Homo sapiens: one gene and its partners. The gene in region 1 interacts genetically with each later gene. Each region holds a gene or a part of one and is shown in the gene's direction. Other genes may lie near its edges.

Evidence for each region.
Region 2: changes in ACACA (region 1) and RAB15 together harm fitness more than expected from each alone (negative genetic interaction), as found in Homo sapiens cells (one large-scale study listed by BioGRID).
Region 3: changes in ACACA (region 1) and NOP58 together harm fitness more than expected from each alone (negative genetic interaction), as found in Homo sapiens cells (one large-scale study listed by BioGRID).
Region 4: changes in ACACA (region 1) and VDAC2 together harm fitness more than expected from each alone (negative genetic interaction), as found in Homo sapiens cells (one large-scale study listed by BioGRID).
Region 5: changes in ACACA (region 1) and KCMF1 together harm fitness less than expected from each alone (positive genetic interaction), as found in Homo sapiens cells (one large-scale study listed by BioGRID).
Region 6: changes in ACACA (region 1) and RHOG together harm fitness more than expected from each alone (negative genetic interaction), as found in Homo sapiens cells (one large-scale study listed by BioGRID).
Region 7: changes in ACACA (region 1) and C5orf46 together harm fitness less than expected from each alone (positive genetic interaction), as found in Homo sapiens cells (one large-scale study listed by BioGRID).

What each region holds. Positions count from the first base shown.
Region 1 is NC_000017.11:37,083,839-37,087,120, reverse strand, and holds the end of ACACA (acetyl-CoA carboxylase 1), read left to right. Parts: 3' UTR 1-2,129; downstream 2,130-3,282. UniProt on the Homo sapiens protein: Cytosolic enzyme that catalyzes the carboxylation of acetyl-CoA to malonyl-CoA, the first and rate-limiting step of de novo fatty acid biosynthesis.
Region 2 is NC_000014.9:64,947,649-64,952,257, reverse strand, and holds part of RAB15 (ras-related protein Rab-15), read left to right. Parts: intron 1-594; coding exon 595-655; intron 656-1,106; coding exon 1,107-1,184; coding exon of another isoform or gene 1,185-1,315; intron 1,316-1,843; coding exon 1,844-1,933; intron 1,934-3,524; coding exon 3,525-3,590; intron 3,591-3,745; coding exon 3,746-3,904; 3' UTR 3,905-4,609. UniProt on the Homo sapiens protein: The small GTPases Rab are key regulators of intracellular membrane trafficking, from the formation of transport vesicles to their fusion with membranes.
Region 3 is NC_000002.12:202,268,319-202,272,927, forward strand, and holds part of NOP58 (nucleolar protein 58), read left to right. Parts: intron 1-4,609. UniProt on the Homo sapiens protein: Required for the biogenesis of box C/D snoRNAs such as U3, U8 and U14 snoRNAs. Part of the small subunit (SSU) processome, first precursor of the small eukaryotic ribosomal subunit.
Region 4 is NC_000010.11:75,216,673-75,221,281, forward strand, and holds part of VDAC2 (non-selective voltage-gated ion channel VDAC2), read left to right. Parts: intron 1-1,215; exon of another isoform or gene 1,216-1,286; coding exon of another isoform or gene 1,287-1,319; intron 1,320-2,390; coding exon 2,391-2,543; intron 2,544-2,631; coding exon 2,632-2,684; intron 2,685-4,070; coding exon 4,071-4,298; intron 4,299-4,609. UniProt on the Homo sapiens protein: Non-selective voltage-gated ion channel that mediates the transport of anions and cations through the mitochondrion outer membrane and plasma membrane.
Region 5 is NC_000002.12:85,043,787-85,048,395, forward strand, and holds part of KCMF1 (E3 ubiquitin-protein ligase KCMF1), read left to right. Parts: intron 1-2,317; coding exon 2,318-2,492; intron 2,493-4,609. UniProt on the Homo sapiens protein: E3 ubiquitin-protein ligase which accepts ubiquitin from an E2 ubiquitin-conjugating enzyme and then transfers it to targeted substrates, promoting their degradation by the proteasome.
Region 6 is NC_000011.10:3,830,960-3,834,459, reverse strand, and holds part of RHOG (rho-related GTP-binding protein RhoG), read left to right. Parts: intron 1-3,500.
Region 7 is NC_000005.10:147,903,115-147,908,177, reverse strand, and holds the start of C5orf46 (uncharacterized protein C5orf46 precursor), read left to right. Parts: upstream 1-1,639; 5' UTR 1,640-1,676; coding exon 1,677-1,746; intron 1,747-5,063.

The sequences.
Region 1 (3,282 bases):
CACACCTACCCCATTCAGTATTTATTACCCTGGCCAGGCCTAGTCCTCCACTCCCTGCACAGGACTGAGAAGGCAATGAAAGGTACAAACATGTACCATGAGGTCTTACTAACCAAAGTAGGGCTGCCCCTCCTGTCCTGACAGCCCCTTGGCCTCCCAGCATGGGGAAGCGTGAGGAGTTGCCCAGCAGTGAGCAGCCCCCCTCACTCCTGGCCCCATGAGCCGCAGCCACAGGCAGCAGAGGAGGGCTAAGGAGAGGAGGAAGCCTCAAGTCCATTGTTTATTACCCCGACTCTTAGCCCAGCACACAGTAGGCACTGGAGAGGAATGATTCCCAGTTTAACCACACTACGGTACCTTTTATGAAGAAAAATTAGAGCATAAAATCTACTACAAGCTCCATAGGAACTCAAAGATGAGGGCAAAACTGTGAGCCAAGAAGCAGAGAAAGAAAATAGAACCAGTTATTCTTGATTTAGGGGACCTCAACCTTGGGTTCAGTCTCTGAGGACAAAGGGAAAGGTAGTTGTTGGCCTGCCTCTCGCCTGCACGTCACTGCTGGACTAGCTGTCGCATGTGGCTGGGAGCTGCAAGGCCAGTGCTTGAGGGGCCCCAGCAGTTCCACAGGTGGTGAAGCCTGAGTTGGCAGAGGAGGAGCCAGAAGAGAACTGCCCTTTCTGCACTGGTGGAAACTAGTTATTTATGCCATGTGGAGAGCCAGTGAGATAGATAGATAGTCTGTTTGTTTTGAGGACTTGGAAAGTTGTTCCTATGAAGCCTGGAGCTTGGATGGTTTTGAGAGGTTAATGGTGCCTCCACACTCACTCTTCCCTAGTTCCAGGATTACTGTCCTAGCAGCTAACGGTTCTACTCTCTTCCCCAGAGTGTAGACAGGCAGCAGGTCTCCCCACAGCTCTGAAAGGACCCTGGTGACAGCTACACCCTCAGCACCAGGAGCTGGCCTTCCTGATGAGGGAGGCTTCCAGGAAACACAGAATCCACATGACCTTAAGATTATTTACAACTCAGTCATGGTGCTGCTGTCCTCCAGGCTTACTGGCCCCTCCTGACTGGCATCAGGGGCTTCCTCAGGTGGTGGAGAGAGTTTACTTTCAACAACTAGTTTATTCAAGAAAAGAACTTACTGATTCCTCTGTTCCTAAAGCAAGAGTGGCAGGTGATCAGGGCTGGTGTAGCATCCGGTTCCTTTAGTGCAGCTAACTGCATTTGTCACTGATGACCAAGGAGGAAATCACTAAGACATTTGAGAAGCAGTGGTATGAACGTTCTTGGACAAGCCACAGTTCTGAGCCTTAACCCTGTAGTTTGCACACAAGAACGAGCTCCACCTCCCCTTCTTCAGGAGGAATCTGTGCGGATAGATTGGCTGGACTTTTCAATGGTTCTGGGTTGCAGGTGGGCACTGTATGGCTGGGTATGGAGCGGACAGCCCCCAGGAGTCAGAGCCTCAGCCCGGCTGCCCTGGTGGAAGGTACAGGTGTTCAGCACCTTCAGAAAAGGGCATAAAGTGGTGGGGGACAATTCTCAGTCCAGGAAAATGCATTGACCATTGCTGGCTATTTGCTTACCTAGTAAGAATTGGATTCATTTTTGACCAGATTATTCTTCTATGCTTTTTTGCAATAAATCAAATCCCACATATCTACAAGTGGTATGAAGTCCTGCACCCCCCAGGAGGCCTGTCCAGGCATGTCTTCAGAGGCAGGGTGGGTTACACTCATTTACCTCCCCTCTCCCCACCAAATTATGACACAAACGAGTATGTTTCCTCTCTAGAACCCTGTAATGCCTCCTCCCCCATCCCCAGAGCTCCTTACTGTAGGTCTTACCCTGGACAAGGATTTTTTCAAGTTGGAGGCACAGAACATGAGCAATCTGACATTCCCACAGCCCCTCAAACATGCAAGGCTACTAAGGCAGGAGGAGTATAAATGATGGATATTGACCAAGACCTGCTTGGACGGAGACCGCCATATTATCTGTTCTCTTCGTTCACAAAACAGCCTTCACTTGTCTCAGAATTTGATGGACACATACTGTGATGAGCAGGAGCTTCAGATGCACTCTTTACACATTTTGTTGAAATAAACCTCTACATTTGTAGAAGAGTTACAGTTTGTCATTTCAATCCATGCCCAGCCACCTCATTTCTTGTTCTGCTTTCAGCAGGGGCTCAGTGTGGGGCAAGCCCCTCCATGGCCCTGTAACACCTAAAGCCCTTTGTCTCCTGAACTTGCATAAAGATGATGGGTAGGCAGTAAAAAGCTGGCCTTGGCCAGCCCTGTCTTATCCGCTGAATCAAGGTCAAACTCTGAAAGGCTACAAATGCTCGGGAACCCCGTAGCAGAGGGTCAGTTTTTTAGTTTCTGTTGAGTTTTTCAGGATGGGAAACTTCTTCCTGCTGAGAGCTGGATGGGAGTCCTGGCAGGAATGTCCCCTCCAAAAGAGAATGTCTTTAGAGCAGGGACAAGAAAGACCACAGCTGTTTAGTGAGGATAACAGCTCCAGGCCTTGGAAGCCCAGAGCCCACTGTCCTCCTCAGAAGTCCCTTCTCAGCATACAGGAAGTTGAGAGTGCTCTGATAACTCAGTGTAAACACTGGGGCCGCATGGCCCTTGTTAGAGATTTGAGAGGAAGGTTTTAGATTTTCTTTCTTTAGCTATTCATGGATTTTTAACTCTGGGCACAAAAAGGCACTCGGGGCAGGAAGCTCATGATTCCATGCCGTCAACCCTCTGCCTCAGTTTCTCTCTCTAAAAAAACTTTCTATGGGCTGGGCATGGTAACTCACCCCTATAATCCTAGCACTTTGGGAGGCTGAGGTGGGTGTATCATGAGATCAGGAGATTGAGACCATCCTGGCTAACACGGTGAAACCCCCTAAAAATATATAAAAAATTAGGTGGGAGCAGTGGCACACACCTGTAGTCCCAGCTACTCAGGAGGCTGAGGCAGGAGAATTGCTTGAACCTGGGAGGCGGAGGTTGCAGTGAGCTGAGATTGCACCACTGCACTCTAGCCTGGTGACAGAGCAAGACTCCGTCTCAAAAAAAAAAAAAAAAAAAAGCTTTCTATGAATCCCTATAATTAAGGCAGGAATAAGCACCAATTCCTGAATGTCTGCAAAGATACAGGTCACAGGAGGCAAATCCCTGCCCTTTGCTGATTATTAAACTCAATGTTGTATCTGTCTCTCTCTTTGGGATATATTGCAAAGCAAAGGGTTGCTTTTTCTAAAATGAAATAGAGTGTTAAGAAAAT
Region 2 (4,609 bases), on another chromosome or scaffold:
AATTTATCTCAGGATTAGGCTTTGCCCTTGGGCTGTGCCACACTATGTTAAGATTGGAAGGAAGGAGGCTACACCCCCCATCATTTAGGGCGAGACCCTGAGAGAGTTCCTCAGGATAGCATGATGAAGTTTCCACAGTAGCAGAGGGTGCTGCTGTGGCTCTCTGCCTGAGGTCTTGGAAGCACTGCCTTTGCCAGGGTTTAGAGCTCCCTCTCAATTCCACAGCAGTATGGGCACTGCCTTCAGAGGTCCCATAGGGACTAGGGGTGTAGCAGCATCCCCTGCCAACTCCCATCCAACCAAATCTGGCCACAGTGGCCAGATTCCAGAGAGCTGTCCAAGGCCTGTTCTGGCTGTGGCTTCTGGTTTCTGCCAGGAGGGCAGTTGGCAGGAGGGGCCAAGGCCCTGCAGGCCTGGTCAGCACCAGCACAGATGACCAGGCCTCTGACTGCAGATCCCTGTGGGGATCCAAGCATCCCTGGTTTTTCACCCTTTAGCTCCCCAGTTTTTCCTACAAGGGGACAGCTCTGCTCTTCCCCTCCCCGTCTGTTCCCATGGTCCCTGCTCCTCTGAGGGACTGGCTTTCTCCTGCAGGGACACTGCAGGGCAGGAGAGATACCAGACCATCACAAAGCAGTACTATCGGCGGGCCCAGGTAAGCCACCACATTGGGGGTTTCAAAGTGGGAAGCTGCCACCCACACTCCCAGCTCTGGGTATTTGAGATGTCTGTGCCACGGATCCCCTAAATACAGTTCGCCTGCTTGGAGGAGCGCAGGGCGTCTTTCAGCTGTTCACTGATCATTTGTCCGTCCATTGTTCATGGCCCACTCACTGCAGGCAGGCCCCTGCCCTCACCCCTGACTTCCACCCTCCATCCTGGGTCAAAGATCCAGGTCAAAGCATGTGGTGTCTTCCTGCTGTAGAGAGTTCTGTGATGGGCCTGGGAGGCGGCAGTGGTGGGGTCTGAGAGAAGAGATATTTCTGGATGCTGAGCAGGGAGAATGGGAGAGTGGGACCCAACCTTTAAGTTTCCACGGCCCCTTCTGGCCCCATGACTGCACTCTCTCTGTGCATATCACATCTCTCTATTTCTCTCTCTCTCAGGGGATATTTTTGGTCTATGACATTAGCAGCGAGCGCTCTTACCAGCACATCATGAAGTGGGTCAGTGACGTGGATGAGGTAGGAGATGCCACCTCACTGCCGGGGTGTGGAGAGGGTGCCTCACCGGGGAAGGCAAGGCGAGGGCCAGATGGGAAGGCAAATGCTTCCAGGAAGCTTTGCCTTCCACAGCCCTGGATGAAGACCTCTGGGTGAGTAAGACATGGGGAAGAAACCGAAGCTGCCATGCCCTCACTCTCTATACCCTGCCAGGCCTCCACGGCTGTGTCTTTCCCGGAAATGAATTAGTTCCAAGTCTTCCCTGTGAGCAGCTTCTTTCCTGAAATCTTGGGACCAGGTGGAGTTGCAAGATTGGGATCTAGTCCTGGCTCTGCACAATAGCTGTGGAGCCTTGGGAAGCCATTTGAATCCTCTGGGTCCCCAGTTCCTGTAGAATGAGGGCTGGACTTACATCCAATGTCCTTTCCAGCTCTGATACCAGTGGTCTAACCCAAGGAAGCACCAGTCTTAGCCAGAGTGTCTTCTACCCTAAGCTCTCCCCGTGATACCCTTGAGGTCAGCCATGGCACTTGGGGGAGCCTGGCACCTGCATCCAGTCGGCCCACCCTGTCCCTAGGGCTCTGGAATTGGTGGTGGGCTGGAGGCAGTGCAGACTCTGTAGGGAAAATTGGGGGGGCAGGCAGCACTCACTGGCTGTTCTGCCCATCCTTTGTCCCTAGTACGCACCAGAAGGCGTCCAGAAGATCCTTATTGGGAATAAGGCTGATGAGGAGCAGAAACGGCAGGTGGGAAGAGAGCAAGGGCAGCAGGTAAGTGGAGGGAAAAGGCAAGTCCACCCCAGGTCCTCTGCTGGGCCTCCAGGGCCAGTCCTGAGCGTGGGGACCTAGGGGTGTGTTCCCCAGTGGCAGGTCCTCCCACACGTCCCCAGCACCCCAAGGCCCTGGGGGAGTGGCCATCCTCGGAAGGCTTGTTGTCTGGGTTTCAGGACAGAAGCCCAGAGATTCGGGGTCCATCCAGAAACAAAGACGTCATAGGCAGCAACTCTCCCAAGTCCAGGTCCCCAAATGCAGGATTGCCCTCTGCTTAAGAGATCATCCCCGTGTTAGTAATGAAGGACTTCAAGTTGTCAACCTCTTCTCTGACAGCATCCAGGCCTAGCTGCCATGTTACGGTCGAGAAATGATCTCCCATCCCACCCAACACTCCCCCACTCCTGTCCTTCTTACCCAGGAAAGAGCCAGGGAGGCAAATGAGGAGACAAAGAGCCACAGCTGGAGAAGCCATGGGGGCAGAAAGGGTAGGAGGATGACGCTGAGGGAATGTCCAAGCATGCAGGGAGACCATCCTCCCAGAGAGCAGAAAGAAATATTGGTTATTTTTTTTTTCTTTCTTTCTTTTTTTTTTTTTTTTTGAGATGGAGTCTCGCTCTGTCACCCAGGCTAGAGTGCAGTGGCGCCATCTCGGCTCACTGCAACCTCTGCCTCCTGAGTTCAAGCAATTCTTCTGCCTCAGCCTCCCAAGTAGCTGAGATTACAGGTGCATGCCACCACGCCTGGCTAATTTTTTTGTATTTTTAGTAGAGATGGGGTTTTGCCATATTGGCCAGGCCGGTCTCGAACTCCTAACCTCAGGTGATCCACCTGCCTCAGTCTCCCAAAGTGCTGGGATTACAGGCGTGAGCCACTGTGCCCAGCCAAGATTGGTATTTCTGAGATAAGTTATCCACTCAGTCCGTGGACCTCAAGAGTTTTCCTCTCCCTTTTCAGTCAATAGCGTTCCATTAGTACTTAAAATGAAATTGATTGTTTGGTATAAAATATAAGACATGGTCATTGACCAATTTGAAAGTAGAGGCAAAGCCTACTAGGATAGTATTTATTGAGCACTCTATGTGTGGCACTGTGCTAAGGCAAGCGCTTTTAAGTGCACGACCCCACTGAATCATCCCACAACCATGGATGGGAGACACACTCAGTCTCCTTTAACAGAAGATAAAGCTGGGGCTTACAGAGAATGTACAACTTGTCCAAGGTCACACAGCTAGCCATCAGTGGCAGTGCTGCTATTCAGGTCTGGGACTGTGGGACTCCAGAGCCCATGTTTTTTACGAGGATGCCATACTGCCACAATGGATGGTGTCTTTATCTCCTGATATATGATTGTGTGTTGGGAGGCGTGGGGTGGCAGCTGGAAGAATGGAGAGGCATATTTGTGGAGGATCTTCCCCCATTCTCTGCTACCCTCTCTTGGAGCTCCCAGTCCCATCTGAGAAATTATCTACTCTGAGAAATCGTCACAACACAGCATGGTTGTGAGTGCAGTGGCAGAAGCCTGTGCCTGGTTGTATGGGCCCCTCCCCTGCCTTACTGACTCTCTTTCAGAAATGTCCTTCTCTTGCAGCTGGCGAAGGAGTATGGCATGGACTTCTATGAAACAAGTGCCTGCACCAACCTCAACATTAAAGAGGTGAGAGCCCTGGTGACCAGGCGCCCGCTCTCTCGGGCTGAGTCCAGCAGAGGTGGGAGGAGGAGCCATAAGATGGACCTTATCCCTCAGGCCGCTGCAGGGTTGCCAGGGGAGAGGAGGAGACACTGGACTAACCTGTGCCCTTTGGTTTCCAGTCATTCACGCGTCTGACAGAGCTGGTGCTGCAGGCCCATAGGAAGGAGCTGGAAGGCCTCCGGATGCGTGCCAGCAATGAGTTGGCACTGGCAGAGCTGGAGGAGGAGGAGGGCAAACCCGAGGGCCCAGCGAACTCTTCGAAAACCTGCTGGTGCTGAGTCCTGTGTGGGGCACCCCACACGACACCCCTCTTCCCTCAGGAGGCCCGTGGGCAGACAGGGGAGCCGGGGCTTTGCCCTGCTGCTGTCCTCTCGTGTGATGACCCTATTGAGTATCAGTAGCCACTACTCCCCCTGCCTGGCCCTGAGAGCGGCTCTGCTGTCATCTCAAGCAGCCCCTGTCCCCAGCCCGTCCACCCTGGAGTGGTCTTCTTCAGCCTGTTTCCCCAGCCACAGGCCTGCTACGACCCCCACGATGTGCCGCAAGCACTGTCTCACCATCCCGCACCCACCAGACAACAGCCAGGGCTGGAGTCCAGGCCACTTTCAGCTGCTCCTTTCTCCGTGCATCGTGTCTCTTCTCTGCTTTTTCTCTCTTCCCCCACTTCTCTTTCTCTGACCCCTCCCCTCCGGTGCGTTTCGTATCAAAGCTCCTCAAACCCCGTCCCCCGTGTGTCCTGCTGTGTGCAGCTCGCTCTTTCCTTCCTTCCTAAGCTATCCAAGGGGATGGACCCAGGCTCGTGGGGAGGTTCCACCCTTGGATCCAGGAAGAACCCTCCACCCTGCCTCGTGGGTGGGCCAAAGGCTACAGGGTGCTTCTTCCTCTTCCCCCACCCCCACTGTCCCTCATGTGCCATGGGCCTGCCTCCCCAGTGACCTGCGAAAGTGGAGCATCGAGGTAGGAGGGAAACGGCAACCAGGGAG
Region 3 (4,609 bases), on another chromosome or scaffold:
GGTCAGGAGTTTGAGACCAGCCTAACCAACATGGTGAAACCCCGTCTCTACTAAAAAAATAGAAAAATTAGCTGGGCGTGGTGGTGTGCGCCTGTAATCTCAGCTACTTGGGAGGCTGAGGCGGGAGCATTGCTTGAACCCGGGAGGCGGAGGTTGTGGTGAGCTGAGATCGTGCCATTGCACTCCAGCCTGGGCAATAAGAGCACAACTCCGTCTCAAAAAAAAAAATTATATTGGATGCATATAATTCATGCTTTGATGAGAATGCTTTAGGAAGTTTTTTGAAGTTTTTTGTTTTTTTGTTTTTTTTGAGACGGAGTTTCACTCTTGTTGCCCAGGCTGGAGTGCAATGGCGCGATCTTGGCTCACCACAACCTCTGCCTCCCAGGATCAAGCAATTCTCCTGCCTCAGCCTCCCGAGTAGCTGGGATTACCAGCATGCACCACCACGCCCAGCTAATTTTGTATGTTTAGTAGTGACAGGGTTTCTCCATGTTGAGGCTGGTCTCGAACTCCTGACCTCAGGTGATCTGCCCGCCTCAGCCTCCCAAAGTGCTGGGATTACAGGCGTGAGCCACTGCACCTGGCCTTGAAGTTTTTTTTAAACTTCCATTTACAGTGAGGAAAACATTTTATGTATAACCCATGTACACATACAAATTCATGTTTATGTATTTAAAATTTATTTTGAGGCAGGGTCTTGCTCTGTCACCCAGGCTGGGGTGCAGTGGCAGGATCATGGCTCATTGCAGCCTTGGCCTCCTGGGTCAAGTGATCCTCCCACCTCCTCCCGAGTAGCTGGGACTACAGGCTCAAGCCACCATGCCTGGCTAATTATTTATTTATTTGTATTTGTATTTATTTATTTTTTGAGATGGAGTCTCACTCTGTTGCCCAGGCTGGAGTGCAGTGGTGTGATCTCGGCTCACTGCAACCTCCGCCTCCTGGGTTCAAACGATTTTCCTGCCTCAGCCTCCCAAGTAGCTGGGATTACAGGCGTGAGCCACCATGCCTGGCCTAAATTTTTTTTTTTTTTTTTAAGAGGCAGAGTCTCACTATGTTGCCTAGGCTGGTCTCAAACTCCTGGCCTCAAGGTGCTGGGATTACAGCCATGAGGTACGGTGTTCTGCCCACTTATGTGTTTAGAGCGATTCAAAAGGAAAACACTTCCAAAAAGTTATTGCTCATTAACAGGGTTATATATATATAAATGTAAAGACATTGTGTAAAGGAACTGTTGTGATTAATTCTAGGATATTATAAAAATTCAGCCTGTGGCCGAGAGCAGTGGCTCACGCCTGTAACCCCAGCTACTTGGAAGGCTGAGGCAGGACAATCAGTTGAACCTAGGAGCAGAGGTTGCAATGAGCTGCGGTCGCGCCACTGCAGTGCAGCCTGGGCGACAGGGCAAGACTCCGTCTCAAAAAAAAGAAAAAAAGAAAAAAAGAAATTCCACCTGTGTCCTTGTGTCACGTGGCACACAGCATAAGATTTTAGTCTTGCTCATACCAGACTTCCTTCAGCTGCTCTTCCATGTGGTAGCCATTAGTACGTATAACCATTTCACATGAGATGTAACTGATAGGACTGAGGAAGTGAATTTTAACTTACTTGAATTTTAATGGTTATATTGTACAGTGTAGCTGTGTAGCATAGCATTTTGTGTCACTTCATTTTCTCAAGGTTTGGAGAAAGATTTTTGATGTACATACCAAATGTCTATATAAAACCTAAGTACTGAGCAATATATTTTTTCTAACTTTATTGGGTGTACTTTACATACTGTATAACTCACCTATAGGTTTTAGTTACAATCCAGTTTTATAGTACACTTTGTTGCAAAAAGTTCTCATGCCCATTTTCAAGTTAGTCCTGCTCTAGACAACCACTGTTCAGCTTTCTTTTTGCATAATTTTTTCTAGAAGTTTCATGTAAGTGGAGTAGTATTTTAGTCTTTTGTGTTTGGCTTTTTTCACTTAGTGTAATGCTTCTGAAGCTAACCGAAGAGCTTTTTCACATTTGTTGCGTGTATGGATTTGTTTCTTTTTGAGCAGTGCACATTTTAAACTAATTATCAGTTTTATCCTGTATTTAAACAAGTTTCATAAAATATTAACTTGCTCATATTGTCTGTGGAAGTGAAACTTAAAAGTTAGCATCAAATAATTTACACAAAACATAGAGGTTGGGTGCAGTGGCTCACGCCTGTCACCCTAACACTTTGGGAGGGTGAAGCAGGAGGATTGTTTGAGCCCAGGAGTTGCAGACCAGCCTGGGCAACATGGCGGAAAAAAAATTAGCTGGGCACAGTGGTGCTTGCCTGTAGTCCCAGCTGCTGCAGGAGGCTGAGGTGGGAGGGAGGTCACGGCTGCAGTGAGCTGTGATTGAGCCTCTGCACTTTAGCCTGGACAACAGAGTGAGACCTCATCTCAAAACAAAACAAAAACCACACAAAGTCTCAAGCAATCAATTAAAAATGAAAATGAGGAGGCTGGACATGGTGGCTCACACCTGTAATCCCAGCACTTTGGAAGGCTGGGGTGGGCAGATCATGAGGTCAGGAGTTTGAAACCAGCCTGGCCAACATAGTGAAACCCCGTCTCTACTAAAAATACAAAAATTAGCCGGGCATGGTGGTGTGTGTCGCCAAATCTGTAGTCCCAGCTGAGGCAGGAGGATCGCTTGAACCAGGGAGGTGGAGGTTGCAGTGAGAAGACCGCGCCTCTGCACTCCCCAGCCTGCGTGACAGGGCGAGACACTGTCTCAAAAAAAAACAAAAAAAGTGATTAAAATTCTTAATTCCATATACCCTCACCAATATTCTGTATCAGCTGCCCAAGTATTAGATAGGATGGGCTCAATCCTAAAAGGCACAACCCCCATATTTAACATCCCTAAAATTGGGATGTCTTACAATTGATGACAGGTCAATTGGGAGTGTAAAAGAATAACATAAGCTGGGTGTGGTGGCTCACGCCTGTCATCCCAGTACTTTGGGAGGCTGAGGCAGGTAGATTGCCAGACCTCAGGAGTTCGAGACCAGCCTGGGCAACAGGGTGCAACCCCGACTTTACTAAAATACAAAAAAAAAAAAAAAAATTAGCCAGGCATGGCAGCATGTGCCTGTAATCCCAGCTACTTGGGAGGCTGAGGCAGGAGAGTTGCTTTAACCAGGGAGGTGGAGGTTGTAGTGAGCTGAGATCACGCCACTGCGGTCCAGCCTGGCCGACAGAGCGCAAGACTCCGTCTCAAAAATAAAAAAAAAAAGAATAGCATGTTAAATTTTGTGAAATAGAGTATGCACAGATATTATGCATATATTTTTATTTAAAAAACCAGCTGGATCAGGCGCCATGGTTCCTTCCTGCACTCCCAGCACTTTGAGAGGCCAAGGCAAGAGGATCACTTGAGTCCAGAAGTTAGAGATCAGCCTGGGCAACAAAGCAAGCCCCTGTCTCTACAAAAAGATTTTTAAAAGAGCTAGATGTCGCAGTGTGCACCTATAGTCCTAGCTACTTGGGAGGCCGAGGCAGAAGAATCGCTTGAGGCCAGGAGTTTGAAGCTGTAGTGACATAGGACCACACCACTCCACTCCAGCCTGGACAACAAAGCGAGACCCTGTCTCTGGAAAAACAACACAGCTAGTAAATTTAAAACTATACTTTGCTAATAAGCATTATTTATCAAGTCCATAATATAGCACATCTACACATTAAGACGCAGTTCTAGTCTGGTTATATATTATTTTCAGTAAGAGAAACACAATGTTGCAAGTTGTATAAAACTTAGATGAGTGACAAGATGATTTTAGGGGTTTGTTCTGATGTATAATTTTTTTTTTTTTTTTTTTTTTGAGACGGAGTCTTGCTGTCGCCCAGGCTGGAGTGCAGTGGCGCGATCTCAGCTCACTGCAGGCTCCGCCCCCTGGGGTTCACGCCATTCTGTTGCCTCAGCCTCCCGAGTAGCTGGAACTACAGGCGCCTTCCACCTCGCCCAGCTAATTTTTTTGTATTTTTAGTTAGAGGCGGGGTTTCACCGTGTTAGCTAGGATGGTCTCGATCTCCTGACCTCGTGATTCGCCCGCCTCAGCCTCCCAGAGTGCTGGGATTACAGGCATGAGCCACCGTGCCCAGCCTGTATAAATTTAATCACACATGGTTGAATTAGATATGTTGGTAAAAATAACCCAAACTAGAAAAACTTAGAGTCACACAAAGCAATAAACAACTACAAAGCCTAGAGTTGGTATTAACAATTTATAAACTAATAGCTCTAACTTTGTATATCATGAAGTTTTAGAATCCAGAGACACCTCACCAAGTCTCATGACTATACTGAAAACACTGATTAAAATTTTTTGAAATTGTTCAGAGAATGCAGCTAACCATAACTGAAGTTCACTATTTTTAAGAGGACATGTATCAAATAGGGGATATGACTCATGAGTAAAATTCACATTTTTTCTAGCTGAAAAGCAAGTATATTTGAAGATAACATTTGGGTAACAAAATTGCCATATTTAAAAGATACTTTCGGCCTGGCGGGGTGGCTCACGCCTGTAATCCCAACACTTTGGGAGGCCGAGGTGGGTGCATCATGAGGTCAGGAG
Region 4 (4,609 bases), on another chromosome or scaffold:
GTTTCTTGAGGCTTCCTTGGCATGTGTATATAGGCTGGCTCTTGATCTGTGGGCTGATGAATGGCCGTAGGTGGGGCCCCAAGAGTCATTAATGTCATTCAGGATTAAAAATAGCTACTCACACATTCCCCATTCAAACTGCTAGAAAAACCTGTTCCATATATATTGTTTTAGTAATGCTTTCCTTTTCTGTGGAGCATATGAAAACGTACAAACTTTCACAGTGTCAGTTCAATTTAATCATTCGGAGGTAGGCTTTGTAATTATAGTTGCAGAAACAGACCCAAAAAAGTTAAGTGAGGCTGGTCACAGTGGCTCATTCCTGTAATCCCAGCGCTTTGGGAGGCCAAGGCAGGAGGATCCCTTGAGCCCAGGAGTTCTGAGACTCACCTGGGCAACATAGTGAGACCCCGTCTCTACAAAAAAATTTAAAAATTAGCTGTGCTTGTTGGTGGGTACCTGAAGTCCCAGCTACTTGGGAGGCTGAGATAGGAGGATCGCTTGAGCCCAGGAGTTTGAGGCTGCAGTGAGCTATGACTGTGGCACTGTACTCCAACCTGGGCGACAGAGTGAGACCCTGTCTCCAAAAAAAACCGCAAAATGTTGTGTCCTGCTCAGTGTGATGCATTTAGTAAATGACACGAAGAACTGGACATCAGAACTCCTAATTTTTATATCTAGTGTTTCCTAACATGATCCAGTGCTTTTTTGTTTAATTGGAAATGGAGTCTCACTCACTCCATCACTCAAGCTAGAGTGCAGTGGTGCCATCTTGGCTCACTGCAACCTCAGGTTCTCAGGTTCAAGTGATTTTCCTGCCTCAGACTCCTGAGTAGCTGGGATTACAGGGATGCACCACCATGCCCGGCTAATTTTTGTATGTTTAGTAGAGACGGGGTTTCACCATGTTGGCTAGGCTGGTCTCAAACTCCCTACCTCAAGTGATCGGCCCGCCTTGGCCTCCTGAAGTGCTGGGATTACAGGTGTGACCCACCACACCCAGCCAGTCCAGTGCTTTTTAGTATAGGTATTGAGGGCTATGCTTTGACTTGAAATTCCTGTTAATGAAAGGGTCTAATTTAGGAGAGTGATGTAAGACCTAAGGATTTGTCTCTAACAGCAGAGCAATAGTTATACAAATGTTCTATTTTCTGAGAGAAGGTTGACTGGCCTTTCCTCCTATTGATACAATTTTTGATATTTCTCACTCTACAGATATCACAATTTCTGGCTGTAGTCTCTTTATTATTTTCACATCAGCTGTCTTCCTTAGGCTTGGCGTGGTGATGCTTGTGATCCCAGCTACTCAGGAGGCTGAGGTACGTGGATCACTTGAGCCTGGGAGGTTGAGGCTGCAGTCAGCTGTGATCACATCATTGTGTTCCAGCTTGGGTGACAGAGGCAAGATGCTGTCTCAAAAAAAAAAAAAAAATTCAGATAAGCCCTCCGTATTTTTTCTTTTTCAGTTCGTGTGCAACCAGGGATTGGCACATTATTATTTTTAGACAGGGTCTCACTGTGTCACCCATGCTGAGTGCAGTGGTGGGATTATGGCTCACTGCAGCCTGGACCTCCCAGGCTCAAGCAGTCCTCCCACCTCTGCCTCCTGAGTAGCTGGGACTACAGGCGCACACCACCACGCTGAGCTGGTTTCTTAATTTTTGTAGAGACATGGTCTTGCTATGTTGCCCAGGCTGGTATCTAAGTGCTGGGATCACAGGCATGAGCCACCACACTCAGTCCCCCATTGATTTTTGAATCCCAAATAAAATCACCTTAGCAAAACCTTCCTTAAAAGATGTACAGTTAGCTGGGGTGGTGGCTTACGTTTGTAATCCCAACACTTTGGGAGGCCGAGGTGGGTGGATCACCTGAGGTCAGGAGTTGGAGACCAGCCTGACCAACATGGTGAAACTCCATCTGTACTAAAAATACAAAAATCAGCTGGGTGTGGTGGCGGGCACCTGTAATCCCAGCTACTTGGAAGGCTGAGGCAGGAGAATCACTTGAACCTGGAAGGCGGAGGTTGCAGTATGCCGAGATCACGCCACTGCACTCCAGCCTGGCGATAGAGCGGGACTCTGTCTCAAAAAAAAAAAAAGGTGTACAGTTTGTTCACTTGAGAATTCACTACAGGTTAACTTGTGATTGATTGGAAGTGTCAGCTGTGTATGTAAAGTGGCAGTCAGTTGCTCAAAGGCTTATTTGTCACTCTTATATATGCTTAGAGAGTAGCACAGTGCAGAAGGATACGAGTGTTTAGGAAGCTAGAAAAAGGATTCATGAATTTACCAAATGTTTCAGGGGGTTTGTGTGTGTGTGCGTGTGTAAGGCAGTGATGAATTCTAGGCTTATGAGAATGTTCATGAAGTTATTGATTGTCTTGTTAGGAATTTTCAACGTCCGGTTCATCTAATACAGACACTGGTAAAGTTACTGGGACCTTGGAGACCAAATACAAGTGGTGTGAGTATGGTCTGACTTTCACAGAAAAGTGGAACACTGATAACACTCTGGGAACAGAAATCGCAATTGAAGACCAGGTAACATTTTGAAAATTTTAGTATTAATTTTATTAATTTATTTTTGTATTTCAAAAAAAGAAAACAAATTACTTTTCTTTCAAAATAGATTTGTCAAGGTTTGAAACTGACATTTGATACTACCTTCTCACCAAACACAGGGTAAGCACAGACATTTTTATCTGTATTACATTTAAAAGTATTTCTCTTTTGTATATTTAGAAAAGGTGTACATTTACTGTTTGATAGCTTATTAAGCTACCTTGTGGTGGTGAAATCTCTGTATCTGCTTTTATTTATTTATTTGAGATGGAGTCTTTGCTGTGTCACCCAGGCTGGAGTGCAGTGGCATCATCTTGGCTCACTGCAGTCTCAGCTTCCTGGGTTCAAGCGATTCTTCTGCCTCTGCCTCCCTGAGTAGCTGGGACTACAGGTGCGTGCCACCACGCCCAGCTAATTTTTGTATTTTTAGTAGAGGCGGGGTTTCGCCATGTTGGCCAGGCTGTCCTGGAACTCCTGACCTCAGGTGATCTGCCCACCTTGGCCTCCCAGAGTGGTGGGATTACAGGCATGAGCCACCACGCCCAGCCTTTTTTTTTTTTTCCATATTTTATTTTATTGTATTTATTTTATTTTATTTTATTTTCATTTGGGACAGAGTCTTACTCTGTCACACAGGCTGGAGTGCAGTGGCGCGATCTCGGCTCACTGCAACCTCTGCCTCCCGGGTTTAAGTGATTCTCCTGCCTCAGCCTCCTGAGTAGCTGGGATCACAGGCATGTGCCACCACGCCCACCTAATTTTTGTATTTTTGGTAGAGACAGGGTTTCACCGTGTTGATCAGGCTGGTCTTGAACTCCTGACCTCGTGATCTGCCCACCTCAGCCTCCCAAAGTGCTGGGATTACAGGTGTGAGCCACCGCTCGCAGCCTGTTTGTTTATTCTCTGTCACCCAGGCTGGAGTGCAATGGTGCGATCTTGGCTCACTGCAACCTCTGCCTCCTGGGTTGAAGCGATTCTCCTGCCTCAGCCTCCTGAGTAGCTGGGATTACAGGCATATGCCACCGTGCCTGGCTAAATTTTTTTGTATTTTTAGTAGAGACGGGATTTCACCATGCTGGCCAGGCTGATCTTAAACTCCTGACCTCAGGTGATCCGCCCGCCTCAGCCTCCCAAAGTGCTGAGATTACAGGCGGGAGCCACCATGCCTGGCCCATATCTGCTTTTAGAATACTATGGTTGCTATCATTGGCTTGCCTTCAAATATTTGCCTCTTTGTTGTTGCACTAACTTGGGCAACTAATGTGTTTCTAACAGGCTTTTGTGACTGATTGTTTGTTCTGCAAAGCAGTTTTCCTAGATGGCTGTCCAGTTGCTTCATGTGTCCTTGTCTTGTAGTTCATTGAGCTGACTTTTTTACTCCCTGTTATTGTATTGCTGATTTTTACTCCCTGGTCATACTGCAGTTTATTTAAGTCTGTTTTGTGCTCTCTTGTGCAGAAGTGTGTGTAAATTTTTCCCAATGACATCAGTTTGTTCTTTTTCCAGAAAGAAAAGTGGTAAAATCAAGTCTTCTTACAAGAGGGAGTGTATAAACCTTGGTTGTGATGTTGACTTTGATTTTGCTGGACCTGCAATCCATGGTTCAGCTGTCTTTGGTTATGAGGGCTGGCTTGCTGGCTACCAGATGACCTTTGACAGTGCCAAATCAAAGCTGACAAGGAATAACTTTGCAGTGGGCTACAGGACTGGGGACTTCCAGCTACACACTAATGTGTAAGTATTTCTTTCATAGGATACTGTGATGTGGGCCCTCAGAGGATGATTTTGATGTCTGTCATCTTATTGATCTGGGTGCACCCTAAAGGATTTCTCATAACATTTAAAAACAAAATCATTCTTGGTCATTTCTAGGGTGCCCCTTGAAAGTTTATAGTAGAAGACTGTTAGTCTGACCTTTGGTGCTGAGAGAGTAAATGTTCATTTTATATGGGGTTTAATGTGCTTTGTATTTTTACAAGAGGCATTATATATTGGCAGACTGCTACCAGTACATTCATTTTACTTAATTATTTTGATGTGTGAGA
Region 5 (4,609 bases), on another chromosome or scaffold:
TGATCCTCCTGCTTCAGCCTCTTGAGTAGCTGGGACTATAGGCACACATGTGCCACTGCATCCAGCTTGTCATTTTGATTTTTTTTAAGGATCATATCCCCCAAAAGAGGAAAAGTAATGTCCAAATTATTTTTACTTATTTGAACTTTTCCTAAAAGTGACTCAGTGCTGAGATGCAATTTATTTCTCTTTTTATATACTATCACCATTGTATGAACCATTTTCATTAAGTGAAAGTTGACTTGTCCTTCATCTTTAGTTCATTACAATTAGATTTTTTTTAAGGCAGTTTGACCAAATTGTGTCTTCCAGGATGGCGTTTTCATACAAAAGAGGAAAATGTTAATCCAAATTAAAATTTAATTAGTTAAATATGAAGAGGCATTATTTGCTTTCCCTCTCTGTTCCTCTGCTGCCTTACCCTGTTGTGGGTGTGGTGTGGTGAGATGGTGGGGACAGGTGTGCATCTTGGTGTTCCTTTCCTTTTTGGGGTCCCCTTCTCCAGAGAGAGCCATTTCCTGCCGAGTTCCTGAGTAGGATAGCATAAGGTCAGCTCTAGCTTTAAATTTCCTTTCCTGCTTTTCTTTTCTTTTCTTTTTTTTTTAAAAGTCGGAGTCTTGCTCTGTCAGCCAGGCTGGAGTACAATGGTGCTATCTTCAGCTTATTGCAACCTCCACCTCCTGGATTCAAGTAATTCTCCTGCCTCAGCCTCCCAAGTAGCTAAGATTACAGGTGCCCGCCACCACACCCAGCTAATTTTTGTATTTTTAGTAGAGATGGGGTTTCACCATATTGGCCAGGCTGGTCTCTTGGCCATGCTGGTCTTGAACTCCTGACTGCCTGCCTCAGCCTCCCAAAGTGCTGGGATTACAGGCATGAACCACTGCGCCTGGCCAATTTTTGTATTTTTTTAGTAGAGATGGGGTTTCACCATGTTGGCCAGGCTGGTCTCGAACTCCTGACCTCAGGTGATCTGCCCACCTCAGCTTCCCAAAGTGCTGGGATTCAGGCGTGAGCCACCACGCCCAGCCTCTTGCTTTTATTTCTGCATTCCCTTCCTTGTCTCTCAACAGTTTCTGGCAGTGTTCCCTGAGATTACTGGCCTACCAGAGCGATTAATTTTGTGGACTCAATGCTTCTGATTTCAGGTTATGAATTGTTCGTCTAAAACTGTCACCAGCTGGGTACAGTGGCTCATGCCTATACTCCCAGCACTTTGAAAGGCCAAGGTGGGAGGATCACTTGAGCCTAGAAGTTTGAAACCAACCTGGACAACATAGGAAGACCCCATCTCTACCAAAATAATGAGCTCAGCTGGTGGCACACACCTGTGGTCCCAGCTACTCAAGAGGCTGAGGTAGGAGGATCACTTGAGCCCATGAGCTCAAGGCTGCAGTAAGCTATGATTGCACCACTGCACTCCAGCCTGGCAACAAAGTGAGACCCTGTCTCAAGATACATATATATATGTATATATAATCATAATATAAAATTATCAAATATATAAATATGATCATATCACTTTCTCTAGAACCCAAACCATCCTCATGAATATGATGGAACAGGGCATGTACCGTGACACCTGAAGGCCTCTTGGAGCTACCCATCCGGTCCTTAAATAACTCCAGAACCATCAGCTGAAAAACTGAGAAGCCAGCCAAAAAATTAATCTGCATTATAAAGCTGGTCTGTTTGGTACTTTAAAGGAAAAATCTCTTCTATATGATCTGGCCTCCCCCACCTCTCATTTGCCTTTGTGGAAACGTAAGGTTGTCTTCATGAGTTTTGACAGCTATTTGCAACTCAGGACCTTTTTCAGTTTGACTTACACTCAGCTGTGTAAGACGGTTGAGGCTGCTGGGAATTTTTCTTCGTGATAAATGTCATGTTAATCTATCTGTGTGTCTTATACAAGAAATGCAAATCTGTTTTCTGCTTAGCAGCGGCATTGGAAAGAAGCTTGAAGACAGAGTAAAACTAATAATCCAAAAGGAACCTTTGATGTGCTGAATATACATTCAGTATTGTTCCTTTTTCATTATAGGTGGTATTTGAGATTTCATGAGCTATATAGAGAAACTTTTTTACCTCACACACCCAATACACACACACACACTCACATGTTGCCTTACATTTGAGTGTCTTTTTAGGGTTAATAGCCCTCATAGATAGAGTTGGGACATTTGCACTTTAAGTTAAATGTGCTGTTTTTAAATGCTTACAATTCAGGAAATCTTTACATCTGTCTAGCAAGGACTCAGGTGATTTTTTTTCTTTCTGTGAAATACTTTCGTTTTTTTCTTAACTTTTGGGTTATGATGAATCGAGTGGTGTTCGACATGTACGTAGAATGTTTCACCCTGGCCGGGGATTAGGAGGTCCTCGTGCTCGTAGATCAAACATGCACTTTACTAGCAGTTCTACTGGTGGACTTTCTTCTTCTCAGAGTTCATATTCTCCAAGCAATAGGGAAGCCATGGATCCTATAGCTGGTAAGTTAGTTTCACATTAATAAGGGAAATGGCAGGGGAAGGAGGAGCTCCTTTTAAAACTTTTTGTGATGCCAGGTGCGGTGGCTCACACCTTTAATCCCAGCACTCTGGGAGGCTGGAGCGGGTGGATCACTTGAGGCCAGGAATTCAAGACCAGCCTGGCCAACATGGCAAAACTCCATCTCTACTAAAAATAAAAAAATTAGCCAGATTTGGTGGTGGGTGCCTGTAATCGCAGCTACTCTGGATGCTGAGGCATGAGAATCGCTTGAGCCTGAAAGGTGGAGGTTCCAGGGAGCCGAGATCGCACCACTGCAGTCCAGCCTGGGTGATGGAGTGAGACCCTGTCTCAAAAAAAAAAAAAAAAACTTTTTGTGAGATTTGTGTTCTTAAGTCTCACCTCTCTGATCATAAGCCATGTTCCTTCACAAAATTCCCAAATACATTAAAAGTGTAAAATGTGTTAAAAGCAGACACTTAACATAAAGTAATTCATACTCTTCTGGCATTGCTTAAGTCCAGTAGTCCCCCCGTCATGTGGTTTTGCTTTCCTGGGTTTCAGTTACCCACAACCAACTACAGTCAAAAAATAGGTGAGTACAGGACAATAAGATACTTAGAGAGAGACCACATCACATAACTTTCATAGTATATTTTTAGATTTACTCTATTTTGTTGGGAATCTCATGTTCCTAATTTATAAATTAGGTGCCTAATTTATAAATTAAACTTTAGCACAACAGATAAGTATGTATAGGAAAAAACATAGTATGTATAGGGTTCTGTATTATCCAAATGCCCATTTCAGCCATTCACTGGGGGTTTTGGAACGTATCTCCTGCAGGTAAAGGGAGACTACTGTTCTTAGAGACAAAAGATGATAAGAAATGGTTTTATGTTGTATTTGTGGCCTCTATTGAAGCCCAAGGAAATCATAAAAGATTTCAACTTGAATACCTCCAAAATGTCATGGTTAAATCTCCATAAGTACACATAAAAAAATGTCCAAAGCACATTTGAAATTAAGGTTTTATAAGGTATAGCTAACATTTTTAAGAACATGTTATGTGTAAAATTCTGTCACAGATTTATGCCTATCTCAGATGTTGTGCAAGGCGCCTCATGGCTTCCAGGTACACATTCCACCACATGGACACATTTCAGAACTGTTATCTATAGCTAATTGAAAAGACTAAAGAATTAAGCTCTTCTCATGGAAGAAAGGAAAGTAGGACTTAATGTCCTGACCTTGATTTGAGAACTATATTGTTGTAGAACATACTGAAAGGTACATGTTTAATAGCTTGGGAAAAATCTTAAAAAAAAAAAAAAAAACACAGTTTTTGAACCTGGCCATGTCACTGAGTCTAGTACATGACAAACCTAGGAAGTTGGTAGCAGAACACAGGGTCAAAATAAAATACAAGAAATCACTGTAGCCTGATAATCTGCAAGACACACCAAGCAGACAAGTGGTAAGACAGTGGGAAGTGTGCACACATTTAAAGCAACAATTCTGAAATGTGTCCATGTGGTGAAGTGTGCACCTACCTGGAAGCCATGAGCACCCTGCAGAACACCTGAAACATTGATAAGTGTAAATCTGTAATAGAAACTGAGAACATCAGAGCTAAATGACAACTTAGGAACACAAAGGAGGAGACAGCAGACACTGGGGGAGGGTAGCAAGAGAGAGAGGAGCAGAAAGATAACTGTTGGGTACTGGGCTTAATTGGGTCCTGGGTGATGTAATAATATGTATGACAAACCCTCGTGGCAGGTGTTTAACTGTGTAACGGACCTTCACATGTACCCCCAAACCTAAAATAAAAATTTAAAAAAGAAAAACAACCTAAGAACAATTTTATACCTATCATGTTATTTAAAAGTTAGATATACCATATAAAATTTTAATTCCAAATGTGCTTTGGACATTTGTGTGTGCAACAACAAAAACAAGCCTAATAAACTGAGTTTGGGGGATTTAAAAAATATTTCTTCATCCAAAGGGAATATTTACCTGCTATTTTGGTGGCAGGCACTAAAAATTAAAGTAGTTTCTGGGAGCAAAATTCAAAATTGAGAAATTTTCTTCATTTGATTTTTTTTCTGTCAGT
Region 6 (3,500 bases), on another chromosome or scaffold:
TACTGGGCTTCAGAGAAGTCTCTCCATATCTCAGTGATGAGGGCTGGTACAAGCAGATCAAAAGGCAATGGTTGTACAGTCCTGTGTGCCTAGCCCTATACTTAGAGGTTTTTTTTTGTCATTTAGTCCAGAGAAGCCAAGGCTTCAGTACTGAAGGGCATGTACAGCTGGGAAACTTACGTATGACTGTTGGAAAAGGAGAATCACACAGAGCCAAAGCAGGGTTAAAAGGGGTGGCCATGGGTGCAGTGGCTTACTCCTGTAATCCCAGCACTTTCAGAGGCCAAGGCAGGTGGATCACTTGAGGCCAGGTGTTCAAGACCAGCCTGGCCAACATGATGAAATCCTGTCTCTACTAAAAATACAAAAATTAGCTGGGCATGATGGCACATGCATGTAATCCCAATAACTCAGGAGGCTGAGGCAGGAGAATCACTTGAACCCGGGAGGTGGAGATTGCAGTGAGCTGAGATCGCGACACTGCACTCTAACCTGGGCGACAGGTAGCCATGCAATGGATATCCAAAGAAGAATTCAGTAACCTTATGCAACTGTGAGACTTAAGTTAGGCCTTAAGGAGTAAGGAAGATTAGAGAAGGGAGAGGGAATGGCAGCAGAGGGAAAAACAAAGAGTAAAAGTTCAGAGGCAAGAATGATCCTGGCTTGTTTGCAGAGGACATTGAAAATCCCTCTGGAACAGGGAGCTGGGAACTCACACTTGCAAAGTACCTACATTGTGCACATATTATACATTAATGCACTTAGTCCTTATAACAGTGCTATGTGGTAGGTACTGTACGTTGCCACTGCATTTGAAAGATAAGGAAATTGAAGCTTAGAGAGGCAAATCATCAGAAGCTCAGGGTCACACAGCTGGTAAGAGGCAGAACTAGGATTCAAACCCAAGTCTACGTAACTCTAATATCCCTTATCAAATTGTGAAGAACTCTGAATGCCAGTATGAGGGACCAGGCATGATCTGAATTGGGACTAAAAAGCCAGAATAAGTCATTGTAATTTGTCTAATAACATACAGATCTGGCCAGGCATGGTGGCCCACGCCCATAATCCCAGCACTTTGGGAGGGCTAGTCAGGAGGATCACTTGAGACCAGGAGTTCAAGACCAGCCTGGGCAACATGGCAAGACCCTGTCTCTACAAACAAACAAAAAGATGCATTAAAAATACAAAAATTAGCCAGGTGTGGTGGTGCCTGCCTGTAGTCCCAGCTACTCAGGAGGCTGAGGTAGGATGCCTTGAGCCTGGGAGGTTGAGACTACAGTGAGCTGTGATGGCACCACTGCATTTCAGCCTGGGCAACAGAACAAGACCTTGCTCCAAAAGAAAAAACAAAACAAAACAGATTGGCAACCATTGATTTACTAAATAACTTTTTTTTTTTTTGAGACATGGGGTCTTGCTGTGTTGCTCAGGCTGGAGTGCAGTGGCTACTCACAGGGACGATAACCTTGACTAGTGTACACACTACAACCCTTCACTCCTGGGCCCAGCCTCCCTAGTAGCTGGGACTGCAGGTGCACCACTGAGCTGGGCTTAATGATTCTTTTGAAAAAGCCACTTAGTGAATAAGTCATTGTTGAACCCCGCTCCAGATAGGTCACACTCCTGGTTTGGTGTCCTGCAGCACTGACATCCCTTCTTCCTGTTTGGCACAGTTTAGACTCTATATGCCCTCCTGAAATGGGCTATGGTAACTTATTCAACCCAGTTCAGGCCAGAGGATTTCAGAAAGAAGAGTTGTTTTGGGAGAGAGGATAAAGGTCTGAACTAGACCTGAGTAGGGAGGACTGGGCTGATCCCCTACCACAGATACAGGCATACTCAGTGCTTCCTGCCTTCTGGGATGAAAGGCTTTGCTCCTGTCACCTCCTGTGTGTACAGCACTTCAGTTTACAAAGTGTATTCATTCCCATGGTCAGGTTCCTTGATGCTGCCCTTGAGGCTGGGAGGGGTACTATTATTACTTCTACTGTACAGATAAAGAAACAGAGGCTCCAGGAAGGGCAGTAACTTACCTGATCAAGGTCACACAGTTAGCTGGTAAGGGGTAACTTGAAGACTGTATGATGCACCAAGGAAAACACAGGACTTTGGGTCACAAAACTGGGTTTGTGTTCTGGCTCCCACACTAACTAGCTGTGTGATGTTGAGTTACTTTTACTGTTCTGAATTTGTTTCCTCATCTGTAGAATAGGCATAGTACTAACAGGTTGTTATAAAGGTCAAATGACATAATAACATGTGACCTATAAAGGCTTATACCATATGAGGGCTTTTTTATCAAGGGTCAAGGTCGGCAGATAAACTCAAGACATCAGAGTCAGGTATCCAGTACTCTTGGCCCTATACCACACTGCCTTTGCTCTGCTTGTTTCTGGACACTACCATACTCATCATCCTTTTCCAGTGTCGGTCCTCGTTCCCTTCCCAGCCCGGAAGCTACGCTGTCCTTCCCCTCTCCTTTGAGAGCTGATTTACTGATTGCTAGTTGATAACCACCTCTTTAGAGAGCTGTACTTCCAGTCTCTTGGGCCTTGTGACAGCCAGCCGGAGTTCCCTCCTTGCCTTCCTGCCTGGGCCAGCCCAGTGCTGGGCTTTTCAGTCATACTGTCAACACCCACTCTCCTGCTCTGTGTGGAACTGAAGATTACAGGCCCAGGAGTTCTGCTTTGAATGTCAAGGCTTCCCACGTAATCCGCTGGGCACAAATAATGCCCCCTGCCTCCAAGGAGCTTTAAGTCTTAGTTCATCCACCTAGTGCTCTTGTAACAACCATTTTAATCTCTAATTCCTGGATAGGAAAACTGAGGCCCAGCAAGCGTAAATGCCTCATGCTTGGTTATAGTGAGTCAGCAGAGCTGGGGTTAGAACTTAGGTCTCTCAACTTCCAGTCTGAGGTCTCTATTTGACTCTCCACTGGCCTAGAGGGTCCTTATGCCCTTCCCTGACCCACTGTCTGAGGGTCTCTATCTGAATGTCCTGACGTTGCATGCACACGTGCACGCGCACAAACACACACACACACTCTCTCTCATTCATGCAAATAGGATGGAAATATTTTTTAATGTGAACCAGAGACACAACTTCATAGAGTGAAACCATTCCTCTCCCAGCTGATTCCAAGGCAAACTGTAGCCTGGGAGGGAGGTGGGACCAAGCCCTGGGTCCTTTGCAGCCCCCACATGACGAAAGTTTCTTTTCCACTTCCCAGTGGGGATTTTCTTCCCCACTTGTCATTGATTTTTGAAGCTTCTGAACCAGTGGTGAGAGCCCAGGCTGGGGGGGTAAGGGGTTCCCAGACCAGGGTGCAGCCTTGCAGTATAGCAAGTGAAATGGAGAAAATGGGCTAGTGTTGATGGTGCTTGGGTGGAGCCAGGGATAAGGAATACTCAGGGATTTGGTTGTGTTTAAAACAGGGCTGCCCCCTCTCAGGGAGCAGGCCCTGGTTGTGGGAGACAGTCAGGGAAAGGAAGTCACAT
Region 7 (5,063 bases), on another chromosome or scaffold:
TTTGCACAATATATGCATATTTCAAAACATCATATTGTGCACCACGAATATGTACAATATTTTGCCAATAAACAAATAAGTGGATCCACAAGCTGAAAGAGAAGAGAGCTGTTAAAACACTTAGTTCTCCTATGAGAACACATGGGCACATTCAGGGGAGCAACACACACTGGGGTCTGTCAGGGTTTCAAGGGGAAAGAGAGCATCAGGAAGAATAGCTAATGGATGCTGGGCTTAATACCTAGGTGCCAGCCAGGCACGGTAGCTCACGCCTGTAATCCCAACACTTGGGAAGGCTGAGGCGGGCAGATCACGAGGTCAGGAGATTGAGATGATCCTGGCCAACATAGTGAAACCCTGTCTCTACTAAAAATACAAAACTTAGCTGGGCATGGTGGCACATGCCTGTAGTCCCAGCTACTAGGGAGGCTGAGGCAGGAGAATCACTTGAACCAGGGAGTCGGAGGTTGCAGTGAACTGAGATCGCGCCACTGCACTCCAGCCTGGCAACAGAGCGAGACTCAGTCTCAAAAAAAAAAAAAAAAAAAAAGAAAGAAAGAAACCTAGGTGACAGGTTGATCTGTGCAGCAAATCATCATCATGGCACATGTTTCCCTATGTAACAAACCTGCACATCCTGCTGGCTACATGTGTAGCCTGGAACTTCAAATAAAAGTTGATGGAAAAAAAAGAGAAAAATAAAAGTAAAATAAATAAGACAGTTTATGTTGTCGTTTTCTGTTTGTTTTGAGACAGAGTCTCACTCTGTCACCCAGGCTGGAGTGCAGTGGTGTGATCTCCGCTCACTGCAATCTCCGCCTCCCAGGGTTCAAGCGATTCTCCTGCCTCAGCCTCCCAAGTAGTTGGGATTACAGGTATCTGCCACTACGACCAGCTAATTTTTTGTATTTTTAGTAGAGACGGGGTTTCACCATGTTGGCCAGGATGGTCTTGAACTCCTGACTTCGTGATTCGCCCACCTCAGCCTCCCAAAGTGCTTGGATTATAGGTGTGAGCCACCGCGCCCAGCCAACACTTAGTTCTTATACAATGGGGTCAAGTGTGCTATAGGGCAGATGATGAAGTAACAAACTGCCTGGAGAAGGGTGGAGTGGTTATCATGAAGGTATCACAAAGAAGGACCATTTGAACTGAGGAATACGTAGGAGTGATCCGAAGGGAGACAAGGAGGAGGGTATCTGAGGAAGAAGGAAGAGCAAGAGCAGACGCATGGGGTGTGAAAGGGCATGCCCATGTGGGAACAAGGGATTGTCCCAGAGCACGAGGGAAGGCATAGAGTGTAAAGGGAGGGTGTAGGCTTGCCTTGCCAATCTGATTTGTTGCCTGCTGCTTGGCACTGACGAGCAATTCTACCTGATATCCCTTTAATTATCAATGCTGGCCTTGAAACTAGCCTCAAGAGATTCACTCCAGAACCCTTTATAGATACAAATTTTAAAAATCAAGAGGGTTTTTCTTTCCCTATATGTAAAATGTTTGGTTTGAATGATAGGGTATGTCTCATTAGTACAGATCCAAAAGCAAGCTGTGCAGACATCTTGTGCAACAATCTAAATTCCAAAGCAGATGATGTCACCTATCTATGCCCTATAAATGGAGCATTGTTTCACATGTATCTGAACAATTTATCTGCACGAATACCCCGTGCTACCAGAATGGCTGTCTCAGTACTTCGCCTGACAGTTGTCCTGGGACTGCTTGTCTTATTCCTGACCTGCTATGCAGGTAAGTGCTTCTGATCACAGCCCATGAATTGTTCAGTAGTTAGCAGTGACTAGAGAAAGCTGATGGCACTGATTCAGAACATAAAAGAAAGAAGGGGTCTTTGGGCACTCCAGAAAGAGCACTGGCCTGGGAGACAAGAGGTGTATCTTCTAACACAAAGAAAGTAGAATTTTAATAAAAACCTAGCCTCTATTTTCAGTGGATGTATGAAGTTTGAAATTTTTTTATGTGCTCTTATGATATAATGACACTATTCTAGTATAAATTCCATGGGAGCTGACTGGCATTTATTTTTTGATAATTATTCCTAATAATGTTCATTGGTGAAGAATATGTACTCTGGAATAAAACTCCTGTACCTGGCTCTACCACTAACCAGAAATGTGACTTTAGGAATGCTATTCAATCTCTCTAGGCCTCACATATAAATGGGGACATTTAACTTTCTCGTAAAGTTATCATGAAAATTAAATAAAAGGAATGAAACAAATTGGAAGGGTACCTGGTTGATAGTAAGCATGCAATAAATACTACCTGCTATTGTTGTCATGTATAATCTCATTTGGTTCTCATAGTAATCCAATGATGTAAACATGTACAGTTTTATCATTTTCCTTTTTGCAGGTTAATAAACAGGTTGCAGAGGGCAAGTTACTTGAGCATACATACAGGTGAAAGTGGCATCTGGGAGTGAAACCTAGGTTCCTAGATTCTTTCTACTATTATCGAGCAACTATTTCTTTCCCACCTTTTCCAAGCACATAGAAGCTCATGCTGTATGCTGCCTTCTCATTAATTAATTTACTGTTTGTCTGCAAAAGTCTGTGAGCTCCATTCAGAATGATAGACCAGAAAACAGAGGGAGTGCAAACATTTAGTGACAGAATCCTTTGAATGTAACTTGGCTGAAGAACACACAGACAGACATTACAACAGAATTACTCTAGACATGGCCACGGATATTATTCAGTCCATTCTACTCCTAAAGAAATCACTACAGTGAAGTGAAAGGAGAGATTTGATACCAAGACCAGGCACCACCCTGTCTCTTATAAACTCTGAAACTGGTTAAATCGTTCACTGCTTTGAACCTCAGTTTCTTTATCTGTAAAACGGGATAACTATCAACTTCACCAGGTCAAATGAATATGCTTTTTAATTACTTTGTAAACTATTAAAACTCTACAAATATCAGCAATACTGTTTATTAAGAACATTATATTCACATTCACTAAGAAACTCAACAAAGTAGTTACTGTAAATAAAGGCTATCCCATATAATACTTGAAAAAAGAAAATATTAAACTATTGACTTTGAAGATTGTTTCTAGGATATCAATCGTTTAATATTTTAATAGCATTTTTAAAATTTATATTATCTTCTAAAGCACTAGAGGAGAAAGTGAATTATAAATCATTTTGCTGCTATTATTATTAATAGTAACAATAAAACAGATAACATTTATTTATTCATTCTTTCATTTATTATTTATTTATATAAGGTAAGTTTATCTTGGGATTGGTACTACGATAAGTGGTATATATATGATATATGTATGTATATATAATATAGATATATGTATGTGTGTGTATATATATATAGATATATAATATATAAAATATCTTTCAATCCTGACAACATATGAGGAAACTGAGAGATGCAAAGTTAAGCACTGTGTGCAAGTTTACATGGCTAATTTTTTGTTAAAGGCAGGAATCAGACAGATCTATAAAACTCCAGAGCATGCAATCCATCACACTTTAATACCTCTCAATATATATGGGGTTCACAAGCTAAGGCCAAGATTTTGATTTCCGCCCACTCCAATCCCAGGCTTCTTGCATCTTGAAAAGCCAGGTTTTAGTGTCATATTAAAATAACAAGTCAATAGAATTTATTATGCAAGTAGCCAGATAGAAACACAGGAGAAAAAATCTCATCTTTCATGCAAGAAATTACTGCTTTGCATTTGGCAAATGTCTTTACAGAACAATTGTTTGGAGGTTGTATTATACAATGTGAATAATGTGCTTTGTGGAGTTAAAAAAAATTAGGTTCAAACCCTGGGTCAGCCACTTTCTAGATGAGTGATTTCAGGTGAGTCATTTAATTTTCCTGAGCATCTGTCTTCTCTGCTGTAACTGTGATACCACTGCTGAGCTAAATGACGATTAAGGCATGTGCTGAAAGCACTGATGGAGTACCTGCACGATAGGCACCTTACACATGAGTTCCGCTTCCGCCTCCTTCCCACAATAAAAACAAACCAATCCTTCTGAGTACCTGGGTTGCCCAGCACTTTATGTGAAGGTCATATCTACAGTTGTCTTTTTTTTTTTTTACCTTGACTCTTAGCATAACTATGCACATAATAGTAGGCTCAGGCCAGGCAGGATGGCTCACACCTGTGACCCCAGCACTTCAGGAGGCCGACGTGGGCAGATCACTCAAGCCCAGGAGTTCGAGACCAGCCTGGGCAATATGGCGAAACCCCGTCTCTACACAAAATACAAGAATTAGCCAGCTGTGGTGGCATATGCCTGTCGTCCCTGCTACTCAGGAGGCTGAGGTGGGAGGATGTCTTGAGCCCAGGACGTTGAGCCTGCAGTGAGCTGTAATCACTTCACTGCCCTTCAGCCTGGACGAGAGAGTGAAGCCCTGTTTCAAAAATAAAACATTAAAAAAGTAGGCCCAAAAATACTTTTTGAATGAAGGAACCAATCATTGGATATATGAATAGGTGATGATTAGTATATTGATTTTGGTTATATGTCCCAAACTGGTGCTTCTATCAAATCTTTAGTTGTGTCATAGTAAACAATAAATGCTCATAGAATTGCCTGCCAATCTTTTTTACTAATAGTTTCCATTTTAGGATATAATATAGATGTAAAGTTTCTGACATAATTTGGCAGCCTCCACACAAAAGGTAGTTACATCTCCTTTATCCAAAGTCAGGGGTACATTGTCTAGAAGTTGGGACTTCTTGAGTTAAAACTTGTGCTGAGGTTGCTAGATAAACTACGAGAAACACAGTTAGATTTGGATTTCTGATATGCAATGAATAATCTTTCAGCATCAGGGTGTCCTAATTATTGCATGGATCTTTTTTATAGTACCAGAAAAGCATTTGTTGTTTATCTGAAATTTAAATTTAACTAGGCATCCTGTATTTTTATGTACCCAGTCTGGTAACATTACTTGTCAGGGTACAATACAATTAAAAAATAAAGGTCCCACTTTATCCTGTGACCAGGGCTCAGAGGGGCGACCACATGTAGCTACTGTCACTCTTCCATCTCTTCTCATCTCCTGG